2 separate regions of the Homo sapiens genome follow, and region 2 is linked to region 1. A link means that fine-mapping ties the variant in region 1 to the expression of a gene that starts in the linked region. Tissue or cell type: whole blood. Region 1 holds a variant in brackets; the other region holds the start of a gene. All regions are shown on one strand. Distances are between the middles of the regions. Region 1 holds the start of LOC105376384 (a long non-coding RNA gene). Region 2 holds the start of IL15RA (interleukin 15 receptor subunit alpha).

Region 1 (11,598 bases):
TCCGCAGTGCAGAGCAGCTTGCCGAGGACCCCGCGTGAAGAAAGCCAGCGAGGGGGGCTTCTGCTCCCTGAGACTCTGGGTTCACCCACAGCACTTTCTGAGGAAGAGGACACCAGCCCAAGCTGGACCTGCCATTTCTCCACTCCCTACAGACAGCCAGTCTCCACTTGCCTCCCCTCTGGATGTATCTGGTCAGGGAAGTGGGGGATGTTCTTTTGATAAAAAAAAAAAAAAAAATTTATGTATTTAAACTTTTATTACAAGATTTCAATTAAACAGGCACCATAGCACTGGCATACCGCTGTGTGATGTCTGCGTCAGCACTGTCGTTCTGAACCTTCTCTTTTTCCAGCTTACTCTTTCCTACAGCACTGTCACTGTTCACAAGACACAGGAAGCAGAGTATGAGACGTGATGTCTTGGGTGGGAACTGAGGCATCAAAAATGAGACTTTGGCCGGGAGCAGTGGCTCACACCTGTAACCCCAGCACTGAATCCAGCCAAGGCAGGAGGACTGCTGGAGCCCAAGGTTGAGGCTGTGAGCCGTGGTCACCTCACAGCTCACTGTACTCCAGCCTGGGTGACAGCGGGACACTGTCTCAAATAACAATAATGTTTTAAGGAGGTCAGATAAATTACAAGGCTAACAGGATCATAATCTCAGCAAGAAATGACCCCAGATGGGCTGGACCACAGCGCCTGTGGGGCCTGGTGAGGAGGGAACGGATGCGAAGATCAGTGGTTCTCAAAGTGTGGTTCCAGCAAGCAGCGGCAACATCACCTGGGAACTTGTTAGAAATAAAAATGTTCAGTCCCCACACCAGGCCTACAGGATCAGAAACTCCAGGGTTGAGGCCCAGCTGTTCGTACATAACAAGCCTGACAAGTGATGCTCATGCATGCTAAGTTGGGAAACTTCTGCTCTTGATGTTTAGAAGGTAGAATCGGTCGGATTTCTGGAGTACTGGGATCATGATAGGGACACTCAGTGGTAGAGGTCATCTTCACTGAGACAGGGAAAATGGGAGCTATAGCAGGTTTGTGTAAACGCAGTGATCAGTTTGGTTTTCAGCATGTTGAGTGGAACCGTCTAGGAGGCTGTTGGGTGAACACATCTGTCCTGCAGCAAAGGGCCTGGCTGGACCTGGGGACTTTATAGAGTTGTCGGTGTGTAGGTGGTGGTGCAGTTTGAAGGGTTTCGCCGAGTTAATCCAGGAGAGTTTAGACAATGAGAAGAGCAGAGGGCCGAGAAGCAAAGCCGGCGGACACGAGGCTTGGGGTGAAGAGAGGAAGAGGGTTTAAGAAGAGCGACAGCTGATCCAGAGGAGCCTCGTGATGGAGCACCACTGAGCTCCGGAGAGGAGGGAGTTCAGGAAAAGGGGATCTTCAGCATCCAGTGCAGTAAATAGACCAAATAAACAAGGGTGGGCAGGTGTTTAACCAGCACTATCAAGGTCAGTTGACATTAGCTGATCAGTTTCAGTTAGGTGAGAAGCCGACCACTGTGGCCTAAAATGTGAGTGAAAAATTTGAGGGCTAAGAAGTATGTGTTCATTTATGGTTTCTTTCTGAAGCCATACTGTAAGGGCAGTAAAAGTTGTGTGTGTGTGTATGTGTGTGTGTGTTTTAACCCTTAAGGGCAAAGACAACAGGAAGGAGGCAGCAGTGATCCTGGAGGCATCAGGATCATCAAACATCTGAAGATGACCCGGCCCCTAAGATGAAGGCTAGAGGTCAAAACCAAAGAATCAACTTGGAGCAAACTGTCTGTACAGGGAGAAGAAAACATCTAAATATCTTTAACACATTCAGAGAATGGAGGAGGTAGTGCATTCCATAGAGTAGCAGGATAGATATGTATAAAATAATATTTGGGGCCGGGCGCATTGGCTCACGCCTGTAATCCCAGCACTTTGGGAGGCTGAGGCGGGTGGATCATCTGAGATCAGGATTTCGAGACCAGCCTGGGCCAACATGGTGAAACCCTGTACTAAAAATACAAAAATTAGCCGGGTGTAGTGGTATGTGCCTGTAATCCCAGCTACTCAGGAGGCTGAGGCAGGAGGATCTCTTGAACCTGGGACGCAGAGTAAGACTTCGTCTCAAAAAATAAAAATAAAATAAAATTTTGGAGCAAAAAATATGAAAAGAAACCCAGTAGAACTGTTAAAATAATAAGTTGAGAATCTAGAAAGTAGAGCAAAAACAAAGATTGAGAAGTAGTTAGAGGCTGGACGTGGTGGCTCATGCCTGTAATCCCAGCACTTTGGAAGGCTGAGTCAGGTGGATCGCTTTGAGCTCAGGACTTCAAGACCAGCCTGGCCAACATGGCAAAACCCATCTACAAAAAATGACCTGGGTGTGGTGGTGCACGATTGTGATCCCAGCTACTCAGGAGGCTGAGGCTGGAGAATGGCTTGAGCCCGGGAGGTGGAGGTTGCAGTGAGCTGAGATTGTGCCACCACACTCCAGCCTGGGTGACACAGCGAGAGCCTGTCTCAAAAAAAAAAAAAAAAGAAAAAAAAAACTAGGGAACCAATTTAAGAAGTTGAGCATCTGTGAATGGGAATTGCAGGAAGAGAAAATGGACAACAGAGTTAAGGAATTTTTAAATTTAATTTTTTTTCAGACGGAGTCTCTCTCTGCTGCCCAGGCTGGAGTGCAGTGACTTGATCTCGGCTCACTGCAACCTCCACCTCCTGGGTTCAAGCGATTCTCATGCCTCAGCCTCTTGAGTAGCTGGGACTACAGGCACATGCCACCATGCCCGGCTAATTTTTTGTATTTTTAGTAGAGATGGGGTTTCACTGTGTTGGCCAGGATGGTCTCGATTTTCTGACCTCGTGATCTGCCCACCTCGGCCTCCCAAAGTGCTGGGATTACAGGCGTGAGCCACCGCACCTGGCCGAAACATTTTTTTTAATTATGAAAATTACCTGAAACTGATGGTAAGGGTTTCTGGATTGAAATGACTCATTAAATGCCCAGGACAATGGGTGAAAATAGGCCCACATTGGCCGGGCGTGGTGGCTCACACCTGTGATCACAGCACTTTGGGAAGCTGAGGTGGGAGGATTGTTTGAGCCCAGGAGTTCAAGACCAACCTGGGCCACATAGGCAGACCCCATCTCTACAAAAAGTATAAAAAATTAGGTGTGGTGGCGCATGCCTTGTTCCCAGCTACTTGGGAGGCTGGGGCAGGAGGATGGCTTGAGCCTGGGAGGTTGAGGCTGCTGTGAGCCATGATTGCACCACTGACCACCACAGCCTGGGTGACAGAGCGCAGGACGTAGCCTGGGGGGAAAAAGGCAATGATTAGTCCTCTGGAAGGCGACAGGTTGTGTAGGAGAGAACTGTAATTGACCCCCCCCACCACCAGCTCAGTGGAGTGTACCTGCTTTCATGGCCTTCATAAGGGTGGGCGTGTTCTGCAGGTAGGAGCTGTGTGCACATGTGGAGTGAACGAGCCGAATCTTAGCCTCTGCGGCAGGAAGTCAGTCACAGTGCCTGAAACTCAAACATGGAAGCAGAAGCCCATGTGAGCCCATCATTTAGAGATATCTTGGAGATGCATAACACACACCGAGACACTCAGCAGAAAGATTTCTAAAAGTTTCCTTTTGGGAGGGGGAACGGGCAGGTGGAGGAGCTTTTTGGTAGGTGTCTTACATAACTGTTGGCTCTAAACTATGTGTCTGTATGATAGAACCATAAAATACCAGTGGGAGGTGAAGATACGGACACCACGTAGACTAGTTCTCAGAAAGCAAGGCTGGCAAGAGGCAAGAAGTGGATAGGGGATGACGTGGCCTTAGGGAGGGGTTTTTGCTTTTAAAACGAGAGAGGTTTGTGCAGGGTTATGTGTTGAGAGGAAGCAAATTCAGAGAGGAGAGATGGAAGCCAGATGAGAGGGATTGGGACGGGAGAGATGAAGGAGAAAGGGGTACGTTGTAAGTGGTTAGGGAGGAAGTTTAGGTTGCTCTCACCCAATAATTTTCTGGTTTTTTTGAGACAGGGTCTTACTCTGTCACTCAGGCTGGAGTGCAGTGGTGCAGTGACAGTTCACTGTAGCCTTGACCTCCAGGCCCAGGTGACCCTCCCACCTCAGCCCCTCAAGTAGCTGGGACTACAGGTGCATGCCACCATGCCCGGCTAATTTTTGCTTATTTTTTGTAGAGATGAGGTGTCGCTCTGTTGCCCAGGCTGGTCTGAAACTCCTGGGCTCAAGCTGTCCACCTGCCTCAGTCTCCCAAAGTGCTGGGTTTAGCGTTTGGGATGGACATAGAAGGGAATGGAGTGGAAGGTGACGGAAAACACAGGTGTGCCGGGCAGCACCCTCCCAGTTGACATCAAACACCATCCTTTTAGCTGGTATTTTTCCTTTAGCAGCCCAGGCATGAGGGCAGAGACGTCGCATGGTGGACTCAGACACAGCTTAATAAACTTAAGGCAGTGCAGCACCCCCGTGGGACCTTCCTGCCTGGGAAGCTGGTCACTGTCACGCTGCCTGCCCAGCTTCCGTCCTGTAGTGGCATTTGGTCTGTGTCTGGGAGCAACTCACTGTATCACAAAGGGACTTTGACACCCCTAGAATCAGACTATTAGCAATTTAACATGTTTTTCAAGTCTGATCCTTGCCCTTCAGTCCTTCCTAGTCACCCTGAACCCCTGGCTTTAGCAATGTGGGGTACACCGAGAGCCTGGAAGCTGATCACTCTACATTTGCAGTGAGTGGGTGCGGTAGAGACGTCTGAACCGAGGCAGGCAGGGTTCCTCCAGCTCCTTGCCCAGACATGAAGACAGTGCTACACGCACGCCCCTGGCCAAGGCACCTCTGCACAGCTGGGCTGGTGTGGGGGGCAGGGCTCCCTTAGCCGGCAGGGGCTCTCCCTCTGCCTGGCCTACTTAAGGGACAGGTTCTCCATGAGGGCCCAGGAGGTGCCGTCCCCTGCGATCCTCCTCACTGGGGACCTGTGTGTGTTTTATCCCTAGTGGCGTGGGCTGAGAGGTAGGTTAGGTGGAGGGAGGGGGGCTTCCCACTCAAACGCCAAGGTCGCCAGTCGATCACTCCATTTGCTGTCTTCGTGACATCTCAGCCCTGCCATGTCCCACATGCAGCCCCTGATTTCCTTCCGAGCCTGGCTGGCTCCTCCACGCACCCTTCCCCACCTCCAGAAACAGCACCACCATCGGGCTGTGATACTTTTCTTCATGCCAGTTCACTGGGAAGCTCCACGCGGCCTCCAGGGTGCACCACCCACCCGCCCGCGACCCTCCACCGTTCTGCCTCCTGGACCAGTTGTAGTCTATGTTGCTCTGTGCCTCTGCCCTGGCCCAACTCGCTCCCATGTAGAGGGACCTGCAATCTTACAATGAAGACTAACGCCGGTCACCCTCCTGCCTCAACCCTGCAGGGCTCTCCTGTTGCGATGAGGGCGTCAGCCCAAGTTGGACCGCAGCGGAAAGGCTGGCGTTTCCTGTCCATTTCCAGGCTGGCCTCTGTCACCCTAAGCCTGTCTTTTAAAGGAACTCACTGAGGGCCCCAGGAAGCGGCCAGCACAGTGCTGACATCCTGGATTTTTCTTTTCTTCCTTTTTTAAATGTACAATTCAGTGGTTCTGATTTTTTTTTCTTTTCTTTTTTTTTTTTTTTTTTGAGACAGAGCCTCACTCTGTCACCCAGCCTGGAGTGCAGTGGTGAGATCTCCGCTCACTGCAACCTCTGCCTCCCGGGTTCAAGCGATTCTCCTGTCTCAGCCTCCCAAGTAGCTGGAATTACAAGCATATGTGACCACAACCAGCTAATTTTTGTATTTTTGGTAGAGACGGGGTTTCACCATGTCGGCCAGGCTGGTCTTGAACTCCTGACCTCAGGTGATCCACCTGCCTCAGCCTCCCAAAGTGCTGGGATTACAGGCGTGAGCCACTATGCCTGGCCTGAATTTTTTATTTTTTTTAAAGTAATCATTTTCCTAATACATGTCTTCCTAATCTGGACCCCACAGATTAAGAAATGCTTTAGTTTTTAATACCCATGGTATATTCTACTACCACTATGTGAAGAGTTGCAGTTAGAACTCTTCCAAAAGATCACATTAAAAAAAAAAATAGCATCAGCCTTTGGAGTCCAGGATGAACAATAAAATAAAAAATAAGTAGCATGGAGGTCACATGGAGAGAGCTTCACCAAGAATTGGCGACACCTGGTGACAGGTAACACTTTAATCAGCCTCACACACACATAATGGGGTCGGTCCCGCGTCCTCAGCCAGCTCCACGTATTTTAGAGTCTCTTACAACATCCCCACTTAATTGGCTGTGAGTGGCCCCAGAGCAAGGCTCTCAGGGGCGGGAAGCAGAAAGTGCTGATTCCACGGGCGTGCGGAGGAGGCTGGTGGCAGGGGCTCGGCTCAGCTGCTCCCAGGCATTCCTTCCTCCCCTGCTCATGTTCGGTGCCTCAGCGTCGCCGGGCAGGCTTCTCTTGGCCAGCCACCTGCAGGGCAGTGTCACGGGAGGCAAGGGAAGGGTAGGCTGGTCTTCTGTGTCTCTTAGGAGTGTGGCAGGCCGGGTCTCTCTTAGCAACCAGAGCAGCCAGCCTCACCAACACCTTACTATAACTCTGAGGAATATATAAATTAAACGAGGAAAATTGGAGAAACTGGTGCCTTAATACAAAGGCTAGAGTGTAAAAACAAGTCGATTAAGACCCCACCTGGGCTTTCTCCCAGACCTTAGAGTTTAATTAAAATAATGGAGGCGTTCTTGTGGACCTTGTACCATGATCCACTTTAAATTAAGTAATTGGGCCAGGAGCAGCGGCTCACGCCCGCAATCCCAGCACTTTGGGAGGCTGAGGGAGGAGGGTCGCTTGAGCCCAGGAGTTCAAGACCAGCCTGGGCAACATAGTGAGACCCTCCCTCTAAAATAAGAAAGAAAAAAAATGAAGTAATTGTTTCAAGGCTCTGAAGTAATTTTCCAGACCCCAGACCCTAGTGAAAGATTAAACAGAGGAATATACTTCAGCTTGGAGGTGTACTCCTGCACATAGGCATATGGTTTAAATGTGTATAAGCACTGAAAAAAAACTTATAATTTTAAATTAGTCTGGTGAGTTACTCTGACCTTCTCCCTGTAACCAGAAATAAACTCCCTTCTTCCCCACTCTGTCTGCAGCTTGTTATTGGACCATGAGAACAAGCAGCTGGACCTGGTTTTGTCTGGGAAGAGGCGCAAGAAAGCCTTTCCCACAGGCTTCTCCAGCTGACTCACATATTGTTGGTCAGAACTGGGCTACCTGCCCACTCCTAAGCCAATCATAGTAAGGAAGAATGGCTTCAAATCATCAGGGTTTTATTTCCTGGAGCTTGGGATGAGGTCAGCTTTCCATGATGCACACGGCTGGGTGAAATAATAAATCCTAAAAAAGTGGGAATGTATTTGCGAAGGAAGGGGCAGGTGCTGATTACCATGTAAGTAAATATACCTCATTAAGGAAGTGAACTCAACGTTTATTAGGAGCCTCCTGCAGGTAGACGCTATCAGGCCTTTGTGTATGTGAATTCCTTCAGTCCTCACAGCAAACCTGGGAGGCAGATGACAGCCGCCATTTGCAGATGAAGAAACAGGCTCTAAAGAGTCACGGGGCTGGGCCCACTGTGCTCAGTATCACAGAGCAGAGCTTGGATGAAAACTCAAGTTCAATCCCAAACCCATAGTATTTCCACTACCACTGTGTGAAGAGTTGGAGTTAGAACTCTTCCAAAAGATCAGTTTGTTTGTTTTTTTAAAGCATCTGCCTATGGAGTCCAGGATGAACAATAAAATAAATATTTAATAGCATGGAAGGCTTTCAGATGTTCTTAGCCATGGA[A/G]TTCTTTAGGCTTAATTTTACTTCCAGTTAACAAATGCAGCCGCTGTGGTCACTCAGGAGGGGGATGGGCACCCAGAGTTCCTTCTCCGCTCCCGCCTGTGGTGGCCCCTCAGGTGCCTCTGCAGCCACCAGGGCTTCCCAGAACACTTGGAAAACACCTGCAGCCACTGCAGCCCCGGGACACTGACAGCAATTTGAGTACCCTCTGGGTGGCATTAACTCCAAGGAGATTTTGAAGATTACACCCCATTTTTGAATTATTTTGGAGACAAGAGTCCCACTCTGTCGCCCAGGCTGGAGCGCAGTGACGCGATCACCGCTCACTGCAGCCTCATGCTCCTGGGCTCAAGCGATCCTCCCACCTCAGATTCCTGAGTAGCTGGGACCCTAGGTGAGCCATGGCACCCAGTTATACACTTCTGTAACTAGGACTGTTGGCTCTCTGCCCAGAGGAATGAAGACACAGCTTCAGAAAGAGAAGCACTAACCTTCATGGTGAGGGCGTCCACCAGGAGGGAGTGGTTTTGCCAAGCGGGGACTTGAGGCAGACGGCCCAAGTTTCACCAACTGTGTTCAATCCTACGGGACCCTTGCTCTTTTTCAGTTTCATTTTCCTTCCAGTTACTGAGCAGCCCTCCCAGGACCCGAGGATGCAGGGCATGCAGGGGCGGCGCAGTGCTTCCCCGGCCAACCCCTGCCTTGCCGTCCGGTTGACCTGGCTGCCCAGCAGCCATGCTCTGTCTTTCCTGAACGTGTTGCTCAATTTCCTGTTTGGGTTTTTGCCTCCACCGCCCCCCCCCACCATTTAGAATGCTCCCTGCCCGTTTATTTAAATTCCACCCATCCTTCCAACTCACATCCTGCATTCCTCAAGCTTCCAGGCCTTGGAGCCATTTCTGCCTTTACTGGGCTCGTGTCCCATTAGTGTGTGTGCTTGTGGTGTAAGGTTTTGTTTCATATTTGTTCCGGTATGCTTCTCTTTTTGACCAGGCTGTAAACTTCTTGAGGATTAGTACCAGGCTTAACTGTCAGGATCTCTAGTGGCTAGCGAGGGGAGAGACAGACGCCAGGGTCTCCTGTGACCCTCACGCCTCTGGGAAGGGAGTGCATGTGCCGTCATCCCCACTACAAAGATGAGGCAATGTCCGTGTGTGTAGTGTCTCCAAGTGACAGGGCCAGCAAAGGGTAGAATGGATGCTCAGCAAAGGGTAGAATGGATGCTCGACACTCAGGCTTTTAAGTTCTATCTTCTTTCCACTGCACAAAGATAGTATTTTGCAGATGCCACATGAATAGCACCGATAATAAGTGTTATGAAGGCTCAGAGGCAAATGATTTTGTACAACTGAGTCATTAGCCAAGGCTCCGGGGCTGGGCATGGTGGCTCACGCCTGTAGTCCCAGCACTATGGGAGGCCAAGGCGGGTGGATCACTTGAGATCAGGAGTTCCAGATCAGCCTGGACAACATGGCGAAACCCTGTCTCTATCAAAAATATAAAAATTAGCTGGGCATGGTGGCACGCACCTGTAGTCCCAGCTACTCAGGAAGCTGAGGCAGGAGAATCGCTTGAACTCGGGAGGCGGAGGTTGCAGTGAGTGGAGATCGTGCCACTGCACTCCAGCCTGAGCGACAGAGCGAGACTCTGTCTCAAAAAAAAAAACCCTCCAAAACTGAAACAACAGAGGCTCCTGGAGAAGGTAAACTTGATCTGGTTCTGGAAGGTGAGTTGGATGTAGGAGACTGTGAAGGAAGGACAGGGGCATTGGGCATTGGCTACGGGCTTGGCCTGTGAGGAGGCCGCAGGTGGGACGTGGGGGTGGAGGTGCTTGCAGCAGGGCCCGGCCCAGCCTTGGGGAGCTCTTGTTTCCACGGAACAGGCTGATTCCTGGGATCCTGAGGGTCTGATTGGGATTCTCAGCAAAGTTTTCTCCCCATGCAGAATGGGACAGGGGGAGGAAATTGTCAGCAGAACAGACTTCCTTTTGCAAGATGCCCCCCTCGAGCAGGAGGCAATGTTGCAGCATTGTCAGGCAGAACAGAGGGCTGCTTCTGAGGACAAGGGAGGGTGGGGGATCCTGTGAGTCCTCCAAATGTCCCCCTACATTTTTAATCCAGTACAGGAACCTCGCCCTTCTCCAATCAGTGCTCTCCCTTCAGCTGGGAAACCTGCTGGGGCCATGGATTCAGCTAATGTTCTTCCAACAACTTGACGGCTTAGACTGTTGTTTTTTTTTGGAGACTGTGTCTCCTCTGTCATCCAGGCTGGAGTGCTGTGGCATGATCTCGGCTCACTGCTACCTCCTGGGCTCAAGCAGTTCTCCCACCTCAGCCTCTTGAGTAGCTGGGACTACAGGCACATGCCACCACAACTGGCTAATTTTTGTATTTTTTGTAGAGACAGGGGTTTCGCCATGTTGTTTGGGCTGGTCTTGAACTCCTGGACTCAAGCGATCCACCTGCCTCGGCCTCCCAAAGTGTTTGGATTACAGGCATGAGCCACGGCGCCCAGCCAAAGGCTCAGACTCTTAAGATGGGTTTTCAGATATCCTGGCCTCGCATCTGTAAGGAATGAAATTCCGCGTTGTTCTAGGCAGTCTTTAGGTTTCAGCCTGTGGCTTGAATTCAGACTTTAGAGATTTGAACTTCTTATTCTCTAAGTTTTTCAGTGACATTAAAAGCAGCTACCCACTATGGGCTCAGATTTCTCATATCCATACGATTTCAGGATGGACGCAACATAGTCTCTGAGAGCCAGGCTTGCAGCAGGCATGACATCCCAGGCACCTCCTGGCGAACTAATTACCGAATTCCCTGGGCCGCTCCATTCCTGTCTCTGCATATCATCAGAACATTCACTCTTTTCTCTCGTCCCTAAGGCAGATAACCAGCCGCAGACACTCCTTATCTCCCCTCTTCTCCATAATTTGCAATACCCACTCCTGGTACCGAATTTCATATCAGCTAGGAACTTTTCAGTGACAAGTAATGAAAACAGAATCTGTTATAAAGAAAAAAAAATGTATTGGAAAGATACGAGGGGCTCATAGAATCCCGGAAAATGGGAGGCTTAGGTTTGGAATATGGTTAGGACCTAAAGACGCCTGGAGAGCCCAGAACAGGAGGCCCAGCAGCCAGTCAGAGCTTCTGAGGCCACTGCTGGCCACTGCCCTGTGAGTTCTGTGCTCTTCATTCTCTGTATTCAACAGCTTTGTAGTCTAGCTGAGAGGCCCTGGAGGCCACGCCCAGGCCAGGTGCCCACGCGTGGGGAGAGCAGGGAGAGGGGAGGTCAGCCCGTCTGTGTCAGTGGGTGATGAGGCACCCCAACAGGATGGAGGAGCCCCAGTGGAATTCTGCATTCCCATTCTTTCTCCTCCTTTGTGTGGAACATTTCTCCTTGGTGATTTTTTTTTTTTTTTTGAATTGGAGTCTCGCTGCGTCTCTCAGGCTGGAGTGCAGGGGTATGATCTCGGCTCACTGCAACCTCCACCCCCAGAGTTCAAGTGATTCTCCTGCCTCAGCCTCCCAAATAGCTGGGATTACAGACGCTCACCACCACGCCAGGCTAATTTTTGTGTTTTTAGTAGAGATGGGGTTTCACCATGTTGGCCAGGCTGGTCTCAATTTCCTGACCTCAGGTGATCCACCCGCCTCGGCCTCCCAAAGTACTGGGATTACAGGCATGAGCCACCCTGCCCGGCCATCCTTGGTGATTCTTTTAATGCATTTT
Region 2 (11,598 bases), 36 kb after region 1:
AGAAGGAGACTTTGCACCTTAGTGATATTGATTTGTCCAACCCATGAACATGGTATATCTCTCCATTGATTTTGTTCCTTAATTTCTCTAAGCAATGCTTTGTAGTTTTCCATATATGAAAGATGTCTTTCACATCTTTTGTTAGATTTATCCGTAAGTATCTAATGCTTTTTAATGTTATTTCAAATGACTTTTTAAAGTTTTTTAATTTCTAATTGTTCATTGTGAATGTATAGAAATAGAACTGATTTTTGTGTAGTGGTGTTTTGTATACTGCAACCAACTTAGACACATATGGCTGACTGATGTTCAAAAGGTATAAGAGAAGGTCAGTGAAGATAATCTTTTCAATAAAGGGTGCTGGAATAATTGGATATGCATATATAGAAACAAACAAAATCCCAAAACAACCTTTAATTCATGCCTCACATTATAAACAAAAATTAATTCAAAATGGATCACAGCCATAAATGTAAACCCTAAAGCTATAAAACTTCTAGAGGAACACATAGAAGTAAACCTTTGTAACCTTAGGCTAGGCAAATATTTCTTAGATATGACACCAAAAGCCCAAAACACAACATAACAAATTAATAAATTAGACTTCATAAAAATTAAAAACTTCTGCTTTTCAAAAGACACTGCTAAGAGAAAGGATAAGCCACAGAATCTGAGAAAATATTTGCAAATCATATACCTGATTAGGGCCTCGTATCCAGAATATATAAAGAACTCTCAAAATTCAGTAATGATACAATTCAATTTTTTATACATAAGACAGAGTCAGAAAAAAAAAAAAAGACAGTCTCGCTCTGTGTCCCAGGCTGGAGTGCAGTGGCGCGATCTCTGCTCACCGCAACCTCTGCCTCCAGGGTTCAAGCGATTCTCCTGCCTCAGCCTCCTGAGTAGCTGACATTACAGGCATGGGCTACCACAGCTGGCTAATTTTTGTATTTTTAGTAGAGAAGGGGTTTTACCATGTTGACCTGGCTGGTCTCGAACTCCTGGCCTCAAGTGATCTGCCCGCGTTGGCCTCCCAAAGTGCTGGGATTACAGGTGTGAGCCACCACACCCAGCTGATACAATTCAATTTTTAAGAGAGCAAAAAAAATATAAACAGATACTACCAGAGAAGATATATACATGGCAAATAAGCACATAACATCACCAGCTGTAGAAAAATGCAAATTAAAACTACAAGGGGAGACCCCCTACATACCTAGTAGAATGGGTAAAATTAAAAAGATTCATCATACCAAGAGCTGACAAGGGTGTGAAGGAACTGGAACTTCCCTACACTGCTGTGGGAATGTAAAATCGTATAACAACTTTGGGAAATGGTTTAGCAGTTTCTTTAAAAATTAAACTTCTGAGGCCAGGTGCAATGGCTCACACCTGTAATCCCAGCACTTTGGGAGGCCAAAGCAGGCAGATCCCCTGAGGTCAGGAGTTCGAGACCAGCCTGGCCAACATGGTGAAACCCCATCTCTACTAAAAATACAAAAATTAGCCGGGCGTAGTGGTGCAAGCCTGTAGTCCCAGCTACTCAGGAGGCTGAGGCAGGAGAATCGCTTGAACCCAGGAGGCAGAGGTTTCAGTGAGCAGAGATGGAGCCACTGCACTTCAGTCTGGGCAACAGAGTGAGATTCTGTCTCAAAATAAGTAAATTAAAAATAAATAAAAATTAAAAATAAATAAATAAAAATTAAAAATTAAACACCTGAGAGGTCAAGGCTGCAGTGAGCTATAATCATGCTACTGCACTCCAGCTTGGGAAACAATGGTGTGACATTGTTTCAAAAAAAAAAAAATTAAACATACACCTGCCATATAACACAGCCACTCTACTCCCAACCATTCTCTACCCATGAGAAATGAAAACATGTGTCCATACAGAAACCTGTATGTCAGTGTTCATAGCAGCTTTCTTTGTAATAGTCCCAAACTGGAAACAACCCAAATGTCCCTTAACAAGTGAATGGCTAAACAAATGATGGGCTAGCCATGGGTAGAATACTACTACTCAATGGTAGAAACTAATGAACTACTTATACAAATTACAACATGGATAAATTCTCAGGATAATTACTGTCTGTGAAAAAAGCCAAACAAGAAAGAGTTCCTACCGTGTAATTCTATTTATAAAAAATTTTAGAAAGTGCATCAAATTGCCTGGGAGATGGGCGAGGTGGGAGATGAGGACTGTGCAGGGCATGAGGAAGTCTTTGGGAGTGATAGTTGTGTTCACTCTTGGTGGTGGCAGTGGTTTCATGAGTATGTATGCATTTACCTCCAAACTTATCAAAGTGTGCAACTTCAATATATGCAGTTTATTGTCGGTCAATTATACCTCAATAAGGCTGTTAAAGGGAAAAAAAACAACGGCTGGGCAAGCTGGCTCACGCCTGTAATCCCAGCACTTTGGAAGGCCGAGGCGGGCAGATCACAAGGTCAGGAGTGATCACCATGTTGGATCAGCCTGACCAACATGATGAAACCCCGTCTCTATTAAAAACACAAAAGTTACTGGGCGTGGTGGCGATCGCCTGTAATCCCAGCTACTCAGGAGGCTGAGGCAGCAGAATCGCTTGAACCCAGGAGGCGGAGGTTGCAGTGAGCTGAGATCGCGCTACTGCACCCCAGCCGGGGTGACAGAGTGAGACTCCGTCTCAAAAAAGAAAACAAGAAAGAAAGAAAAAGAAAAAGAAAAAACATTGAGAGCTTTGGGAAGGGAAGGTAGCAACATCTTTCTAAGGTCAAAGGGCAAGGCTGTGCAGCTGATGAGATCAGAGATCTCACAGTGGTGCTCCCCTATCCACTCAGTCTTCAAGGAAGACACCTCCTCTCTGCTGGGCTTTGACTAAGGCTGCATTTCACTTTCATATTGTGTAATCCAGCTGCCCCAGTTGCCAGCTATGGGGTCCTGTGACACTGCTAGCCAACTGGGAGGAACCAACCGGTCACCAACTAACTCTGCTTCTCAGATGTGGGGGGAAATCCAAGCATCAGAGTCTCATGAAAACGAAACTTCAAGAAGCCTCGCAGAGCTGGGGTGGGGGTGGCAGAGGGTGGGGGGGCGTTCAGGCCACACCAGGCAGCAGCAACTGTGCGTGGAATGGCTTTGGCCAGGGCCTGGGCAGACTGGCCCGACTGGATGTAAATTATTCAGGGTCTCGCTTAAAAACACACACAGATCATGGCGTTACTAATTCCTATAGAGAGTCCATGGATGGCCTTCAGTGGGGCTTTGACCCCAAAATCATATGCACATTTTGTAACTATGTTCATTCATGCATTTTTCTGGGGGCCGGGGGTTCATAGCTTTCATCAGACCCTCCAAGAGCTCCCTGACTATAAAAAGATAAAGAAGCGCTGACAAGGATAGAGCTAGACCCTGCTACTGTTTTCCTCCTTCCTCTGGCTGCCGGGACAAAACCCCTAGGAATCGCTCATTCCGTCCTCCCTGCCGAGATCAGAGCTCCGCGACCCGCTTTCTTCTCGAATACACCAAGCGATCACAGATCTCTTCCCCCTTTTTCTGCGAGTGTAGACTCCAGGCTGGCCCCCACTCCCCACCCCCATCCGGTCCCGACCGCCTCTGCTGGTTTCCTGATCGCTTAAGAATTGGAAGTTGTTTCCAGGTCCCCAGGTGTGCAACTTGCCCGACGCGTTTCCCCCTGGGACACAGCTCCTCCCCACCCTCCCAGCTCCCACTGACATAATTTACTTTTGCCTGGGAGTCGGGAGGAGTAGTTTCTCCCGGACCCCTCCGAGGACCGCGTGCTATGCAACACCCGCCCTGCAGTCCAGGCGCCTGGGAGAAGCGCACTCGCCCGTGTCTCCAAACTGCTGGACGCCGCCGGCTCCGCGCTCCCGTGGCCAAAACGGGCTTCTCAGAACTGCTCCTGACCTCGGCCTCGGAGACCCCAGCCAGGCCGCCCGCTCCCTTACGTGGGTGACCCGGGCGCAGCGGCGGCGCTCTCCCTGCGACCCCGGCTCCCGGCACGTGTCCCTCCTGCCCGGCGCCGCGTCCCCTCCCCGGCCTGGGCCTGCGCGCACCGCGCTCCCGAGGGCACCGACGCCCCCGCACGGCCCGGGGAGATGGGGCGCCCGGTTCCCTCCAGCTCCACGTCCCGGCCCCCTTCCAAGTCCCGCCCGGGCGCCCCTGCTCCCAGCTCCCTACCCCGCGTCGCCGGCGGCCGGAGCAGCAGCAGCAGTAGCAGCGCCGGGAGACCGAGGGTCCGGCAGCCGCGCGCCCGCCGCGGGGCCATGGCGGCAGCTCCACAGGACACCGCTGGACTCCCCGGGCGAGCGCTGCCCAGGCCGGGGGGAGGTGGCGAGCGCTGCTCTGGGACCTGCCGCCCCGCCAGTCGCATTCGCTTTCGCTTTTGCTTTGGCCCCCGAGGGCTCGGAGAGGTGCAAAGCGGTGACAGATCCGTGACTCAGCGTCCCCACCCCTGCTGGGGAAGGAGCCCCGCCGGCCGCCGCGGCACCGCACAGCCACCCCTGTCCCCGGGACGCATGGGCCGTGCCCGGTGGGGACCCAGGACCTTACCCACGCAAGCCCGGGAGCCTCCCGGTCCTCCGCGCTCGTCGTGCTCTGGGACCTCCAGTGTGCACTCGGTCCGGTGTCCCCACTGCGAAGAGAGTGGGCAAAGTCATCGGAGAGCAGACTCTCTCCAGCCCTCTCTGCGGCTCGGATCCACTTGACCTCGCCCGGCGCTGGTCGCCTCCAGCTGCTCCGCCTTCGGCTTTCCTGGTCTCCCTCCGCGGCCCTGCGCTCGGTTGTGAGCGGCCGGCCTGGGTGAGTGCCCGCGGAGGTGTCGCCGCGGTGCGGAGGCGCGGGCACCTGCCTGGTGCGCTCTGGCCCGGGCGGAGCGCAGCCCCCGCCACCTGCTGGCTCCCGCGGCCCCCGGCGCCCGCTGGGGCCCCAGCTCCGCCACTTCGCCGAATTCCTGCTGCAGCTTTGCTCCCCTAGAAAATGCCTCATCTTAGAAGGAGAGGGGGCGGAGGGGGGAGAAGGGGGAGAGGAGCCACAGTGCTTCACCTCTGAGCCTCGCTTCCTTAGGTTCTTCCAGGCTGCCATCCTCCTCTTTGGCTGGTGGGTTTTTTTCTTTCTTGGGGTCTCAAGTGAAGCCTGAGAACCGGGTCTGTAAGCTCCCAAGTGCAGATTCTCAGGTCTAGCGGTGACATTGGACAGGACGAGACATCTCCAAGCCTCGGTCATTGCCTCTTAAAATCTCACAACGTGTTTATGAGGCTTTTGTGACATACTTGCAAATTCTCTTTGAAAACGAAATAATCTGTACAATAATCCCCCAAGACACAGGTTTACCTTTATAACAAACCTGCACTTATAACCCTGAACTTAAAAGTTAAATAAAAGAATTTAGGGCCGAGCGCGGTGGCCACTCCTGAAATCCAAGCACTTTCGGAGGCCAAGGCAGGTGGATCGCCTGAAGTCAGGAATTCGAGACTAGCCTGGCCAACATGGTGAAACCCCATCTCTACTAAAAATACCAAAATTAGCTGGGCATGGTGGCGGGCGCCTGTAATCCCAGCTATTCAGGAGGCTGAGGCAGGAGAATCACTTGAACCCAGGAGGCTGAGGTTGCAGTGAGCTGAGATCGCACCACTGCACTCCAGCCTGGGCAACACAGCCAGTTCCTGTCTCTTAAATTTAAAAAAAAAAAGTAGAAAGAATAATGAACCTACCATCCGGCAGTGACCACACAAGGTCCATTCTTTTTTTCTAAGCAGGAATAGCCACCCTTACTCCAACTGGGGAAATCCCACATTATTCAATTTCTCTCAATACTTAATAATAAATCTCAAGATGATAAGATCAAATTTAAAAATTAACAATATTCCTTAATATTCTCAAATATATTGAGGGTTTATTGAATGCAGGCTAAGCATAGCATGTATACAATAGAGCATTTTTTATTCTATGGACATTTATGAAGTAGAGATTTCTCCATTATTACAGACTCTTTGTAAAAGTTTTTAATGGCTGCAAATTATCATAGTTTAACATCCCCTCTATTATTTTAATATTAAAGATAACATTGTCATAAATGTCTTTCTACAAAATCTTGTGAATTTAAGATCGCTTAGAATAGATTTCCTACAGTGGAACTATTGAGTCAACTGGTAGGGAATATTTTTAAAGGCTTTTTCTCTTTTAAACAAATATTTCTATCTTGCTTTCCAAAAGTCTTGTATCAATATACCTTCTAACTAGCATTGATTGTGTTAAAGTACCCATTTTACTGCATTCTGACCAAAAGTAAATTTTAAAATTTGAAAATAAAATTGTAAATTTGGTATGCTTAAAGAACTCTATTTCATTACATATATATACGTTGTTAAATAATGTAAATTTCAAATATACTTCGAACTATAGCAATCAATAAATATAGTGGATATCCATGAGCCTACTGCCTCATCCTGTCAAAACTTAATATGTCTGCTCAATGTTTGCTTCAGATATTTTTTGGAATAAAAAAATTACAGATAAAGTTGAAGCCCCTTTGTATTCTTGCATCTTTCTCTTCCTCCGTCTTCCACTTTCTCGCAGGTAAATGTTTCTTGAAACTGGTACTCATCATTCCCAGGCATTCTTAGGCCCCTTTTCCATGTGTATGTCCATGTGCAACGGACAGGATGGCTTACATTTTTAAAAATTCATGTGATTAAGGCTGGGTGTGGTGGCTCATGACTGTAATCCCAGCACTTTGGGAGGCTGAGGTGGGCAGATCACTTGAGGTCAGGAGTTCGAGACCAGCCTGGCCTACATGGTGAAACCCCATCTCTACTAAAAATACAAAAATTAGCAGGGTGTGGTGGCACGCACCTGTAATCTCATCTACTTGGGAGGCTGAGGCATGAGAATCGCTTGAACCTGGGAGGTGGAGGATGCAGTGAGCTGAGATCACACCACTGCACTCTAGCCTGGGCGACAGAAAGAGACTCGGTCTCAAAAAAAAAAAAAAAAAATTCATATGAACAGTACCATACAGATTGAGCACCCCTGATCTCCAAATCCCAAATCCAAAATGGTCCAAAATCCAAAACTTTTTGAGCTCTGACATTACGCCACAAGTGGAAAATTCCACACCTGATCTCGTGGGGTGGGTGGCAATCAAAACACAGGCACATAACACACTGTTTATTCAGCATCCCCAAGGGGAAAAAAGACTCTCCCAGCCGCCTTCAGCTGAGAGATATCTTTTCTGTGCATGCCCAGATTCCCCCATGCAAGCACGCACACAAAAGGTGGTAAAATGGCCTGTGTGCAGGTCGAACACACCCATGGTAGGTCCCGACAATTCCCCATATGGAGCCAAGCCCCGCCTCTGTGCACTTCTCACTGTGCTATTTTTGCTTATTCTCTGCTCTCTGGTCTAATGATGTTGAAAATGTTGGCCGGGTGCAGTGGCTCACGTCTGTAATCCCAGCACTTTGGGAGGCCAAGGTGGGTGGATCACTTGAGCTCAGGAGTTCGAGACCAGCCTGGGCAACACAGCACACCTATAGGTGTGCACCACCACACCTGGCTGATATTTATTTATTTCTAGAGATGAGGTCTCACTATGTTGCCAAGGCTGGTCTCACACTCCTGGCCTCAAGCCATCCTCCCACCTCAGCTTCCTGAGTAGCTGAGATTACATGTATAATCAGGGACATCTTTTCTGATTAGTCTCACAAACATTTTGGACCAGTGGCTTGTGTCACTGTAGGGAGGGTGGACTGGATGATGACTGCAAGATTTTGTTTTTCTTTGACAACCATTCTGCTCATCCTCCAGCTGAAACTCTCATTAAAAATAATGTTTATGCCATGGGCTTTCTTCCAAATGTGACTTCATTACTTCAGCCATGTGACCAGGGTATCCTTAGATCAATGGAGATCAATGGAGAGTAAATATGGAAACATTGCACGCTAGCAGCAGTGAACAGAGGGGTGGGTGTGGAAGTTTTCAAAAGGTGTTTAGCATGAAGGATGCCAATGCTGTTTCCAATGCTTGGAACTCAGTGACTAACGACACAGCCATGCGTGCATGGCACAACCTCTGGTCTGCGACTATGTTCAGTGATGATGATGAACAAGGTGATGACATGGAAGTATTCCATATGTGAAGTGGGAAAAAAATGATGTCTGACCTCCCTATGCAGGCAAAAAATATACCTTCAGAGTGTGTCAGCATGCTGGACGAAGTGGATATACAGGTTTTTAACATCTATACTGTGGCTCCAGTTGTTCGTTCATTGACCGATGATGAACAATGGCAAAACGGTTCTGAACCAAGGTGCTTGTGCTAACAGTGATGACGAACATAATGCTGTTATCACAGCAGAACACGCACCTGCAGGCGCCATGATGAAAGCATGCGATGGGCTCATTGAAGGACTAGAACGGTGGGTGTTCGAGGCAGGGTAAGCAAGATGAGGACCCTGTACCAACTTGTCCCCTTGTGCGAAGCCCTGAAGGACCCTTTTGCAGAGTCTTCTTTTGCTTGCAACTCTCCTGCGTCAGCACCTAGTGCTTTTGCAAGATAAGCTGCCCTACAAGATACCAGCAGATGGCCAGATGGTTACAAGTTGCTGCTGCCTGATTCGGCCCAGAAAAGAGAACAAAAGCCCCTTTCTCATGATGTAGCTTCTCCAATCTCCAGCCAGTCTGCACCAAAAGCCCAAGAAGCTATTAGCTACGAACTCCTGCCTTGGGGGTAGGAACTTCTCCAGGGTTCTGCACGTGCTCTAGGCTCAAGGTTTAGCTTATAGTGAACTTTTCCTTTTTTTTTTTTTTTTTTTTTGAGGCAGGGTCTCACTATGTTGCCCTGGCTGGAGTGCAGTGGCGTGATTCCATCTCACTACAGCCTTGAGCTCCCAGGCTCAGGTGATCCTTCCGCCTCAGCTTCCTGAGTAGCTGGGATTAAAGGCGCCTGCCACCATACCCGGCTAATTTTTTTTTTGTATTGTTAGTAGAGATGGAGCTTCACCACGTTGGCCAGGCTAGTCTCAAACTCCTGACTTCAGGTGAACCTCCTGCCTTGGCCTCACAAAGTGCTGGGATTACAGGCATGAGCCACCGAGCCCGGCCTACAGTATCGTTTAATCAGAACACAGCATCATTGATGGAGATGGAAGCCCACTGTCGTGGTTGCTGTTGTCTGTCGGCTGATCCAGGTCTCTGATGACACCACTGGGCTGCTTAGTGACCCTGAACACATTATGTTTTCACTGGTTTAATGCTATGTCATATTTTTTACTGTTAAGTACTCATGTGTGAATAAGTGTAAGAAAACGATTGTTTGTAAGGGTAGCCCATAAATTCAGAGTCAGAGTCAGGAATGGTGGTGATGCCAATCATCCGCAGATGTTCACGTGGGTGACTGCAGTGGCAACAACGTTGCTTTCTGGGCGTTCAATAGACACAAACTGTTTCATGCACAAATTATTAAAAATATTGTATGAAACTACCTTTAGGCTATGTGTATAGGGTACATATGAAACATAAATGAATTTTATATTTAGACTTAGGTCCCATCCCCAAGATACCTCATTGTGTATATGTGAATATTCCAAAATCTGAAAAAATCTGAATTCTGAAATATTTCACATTCCAAGCATTTCAGATAATGGAGACTCAACCTGCACTGTCATGTCATTCCAAAACTTTCTTTTTCCCTTAGCATTAATTTCTCCATTGATACATGTAGTGGTAGGTCATTAATTTTAACTGTTAGATAGTATTACGCCCTGTTACACCCTGCTATACTCTGCTATTATCTGCGCTATTTTCTGCCATAACTCCTAAAAGCTTCAGGTAGTGTCCAGTGCTGGTCTAGACTTTCCCTCATTGTATAAATTGAATGTTTTAGCAGGAAACTGGAAAAGACCAAGGCCAATTATTGATTTAGAATGCCATTGTACACTCAAAGGCTCTTCTTTTTTTTTTAACCTTTTTAGAAATACTGTTTCCATAAATTATTTTCACTTAGATAATTAGTCCATTACTGGGATACTTACTCTGTTCCACAGTCTCCGCCAGTTATTATAGCTCTGTCATGTTTCCAAATCTTGCAGGGGATGGTCTGCCCCGTAAGTTCCTCCTCCCCAAGGTTTCTTTGCTATCCTTTTAAAGAATATTCTTATGTTTGTTCATCCAGATGAAATTTCGAATTTTTATTTCGGATTGTCAGTTACCTCTTAAAAAAACAAAAGGATCCAACATCTTGAATTGTATTTAGATGGAAATAATACTTAATTTCATCCATATTCCATAGGGACTACTTTCCTGGGTTAAACTGATATGACTTGATGGTATCTTTAAAAAACTTTTTGTTTGGAGGTAAGTAGAGATTCTCACGTAGTTGTAATGATACAGAGAGATCCTGTATACCCTTGACTCAGTTTTCCTCAATGGTAGCATGTTGAATAGCTAAAGTACAATATCACAACCAGGAAATGACATGGATACAACATATAGACATTCGAATTTTGCCAGTGTTACATGCGTGTGTGCGTGTGTAATTCTACACAATTTTGTCACATTGCAGGCGGTTGGGTTGTGGCCCCTCCACGGCCAAGATGCAGGGCAAGATGAAGCACACCAGGCTGCCTTGTGCTGCCCTTTTATAGCCACAGCCATCCGCCTCTCTCCACTTTCCCTCAGCACCGGCAGCCACAATGCTATCCATCTCTGCAACTTTGTCATTTCAAGAACGTTTGCTATATAAATGAAATCATCCAGCGTGTAGCCTTTCGAGGTCAGCTTTTGCAAACAGTGCAATTCTCTGTAGATCCATTCAAGCTGCTGCATGGATGAACAGCTTGGTCCTTTTTAGGAGCAACATGGGAGTCTCTCTTTAGAATGTATGACCCTCCCATCCACACTTCAGCCACGCCTGGCCTTTTCTGTGTGTATTAATTTCCTAAGCCTGCCGCAACAAAGTACCAAACACCGTGTGGCTTGAAACAACAGAAATTTGTTGTCTCGTAGTTCTGGAGGCTGGAAGGCTGAAATCAAGGTGTCAGCAGGTGTCTGATGGCTCTAGGGGAAAGTCCTTCCTGGCCACATCCAGGCTATGGCATTTGCCAGCTGTCCTTGTCATTCCCTTGCCATTGCTCCTGCCACATGGCTGTCCTCTCCCTGTGTCTCTTCCCAGAATCCTGCCTCTGTGCATGTTGACATCCAAATTCTGTCTCCTTATAAGCACACCAGTCATATTGGATCAGGGCCCATCCCAGTGACCTCATTTTAACTTGATTGTCTTGGTAAAGACCCTATCTCCAGAGCCGGTGCGGTGGCTCATGCCTGTAATCCCACCACTTTGGGAAGCCGAGGCGGGTGGATCATGAGGTCAGGAGTTCAAGACCAGCCTGGCCAGCATGGTGAAATCCTGAATCTACTAAAAATACAAAAAATTGGCCGGGCAGGGTGGCGCACACCTATAGTCCCAGCTACTTGGGAGGCTGAGGCAGGAGAATTGCTTGAACCCAGCAGGCGGAGGCTGCAGTGAGCCGAGATCGCGCCACTGCACTCCAGCCTGCATGACAGAGTGACACTCCGTCTCAAAAAAAAAATAGAAAT

Evidence for each region.
Region 2: IL15RA starts here. The variant in region 1 is fine-mapped to the expression of IL15RA in whole blood (TOPMed, PIP above 0.99).

What each region holds. Positions count from the first base shown.
Region 1 is chr10:5,937,298-5,948,895 of GRCh38, forward strand. LOC105376384 (a long non-coding RNA gene) reads right to left here and starts at 8,617. Exons shown (of 2, transcript NR_188180.1): 1 at 8,358-8,617; 2 at 1-212. FBH1 (F-box DNA helicase 1) reads left to right here. Exons shown (of 21, transcript NM_178150.3): 21 at 1-296. RefSeq lists an enhancer at 7,818-8,376. The variant A/G (reference allele first, on the strand shown) is at 7,870.
Region 2 is chr10:5,973,222-5,984,819 of GRCh38, forward strand. It overlaps IL15RA (interleukin 15 receptor subunit alpha), which reads right to left and starts at 4,322. Exons shown (of 7, transcript NM_002189.4): 1 at 4,184-4,322. The coding sequence starts at 4,271. It overlaps LOC107984200 (a long non-coding RNA gene), which reads left to right. Exons shown (of 3, transcript XR_001747348.2): 3 at 1-843. RefSeq lists enhancers at 2,576-2,845, 2,976-3,055 and silencers at 3,946-4,325, 4,416-5,085, 8,465-8,759.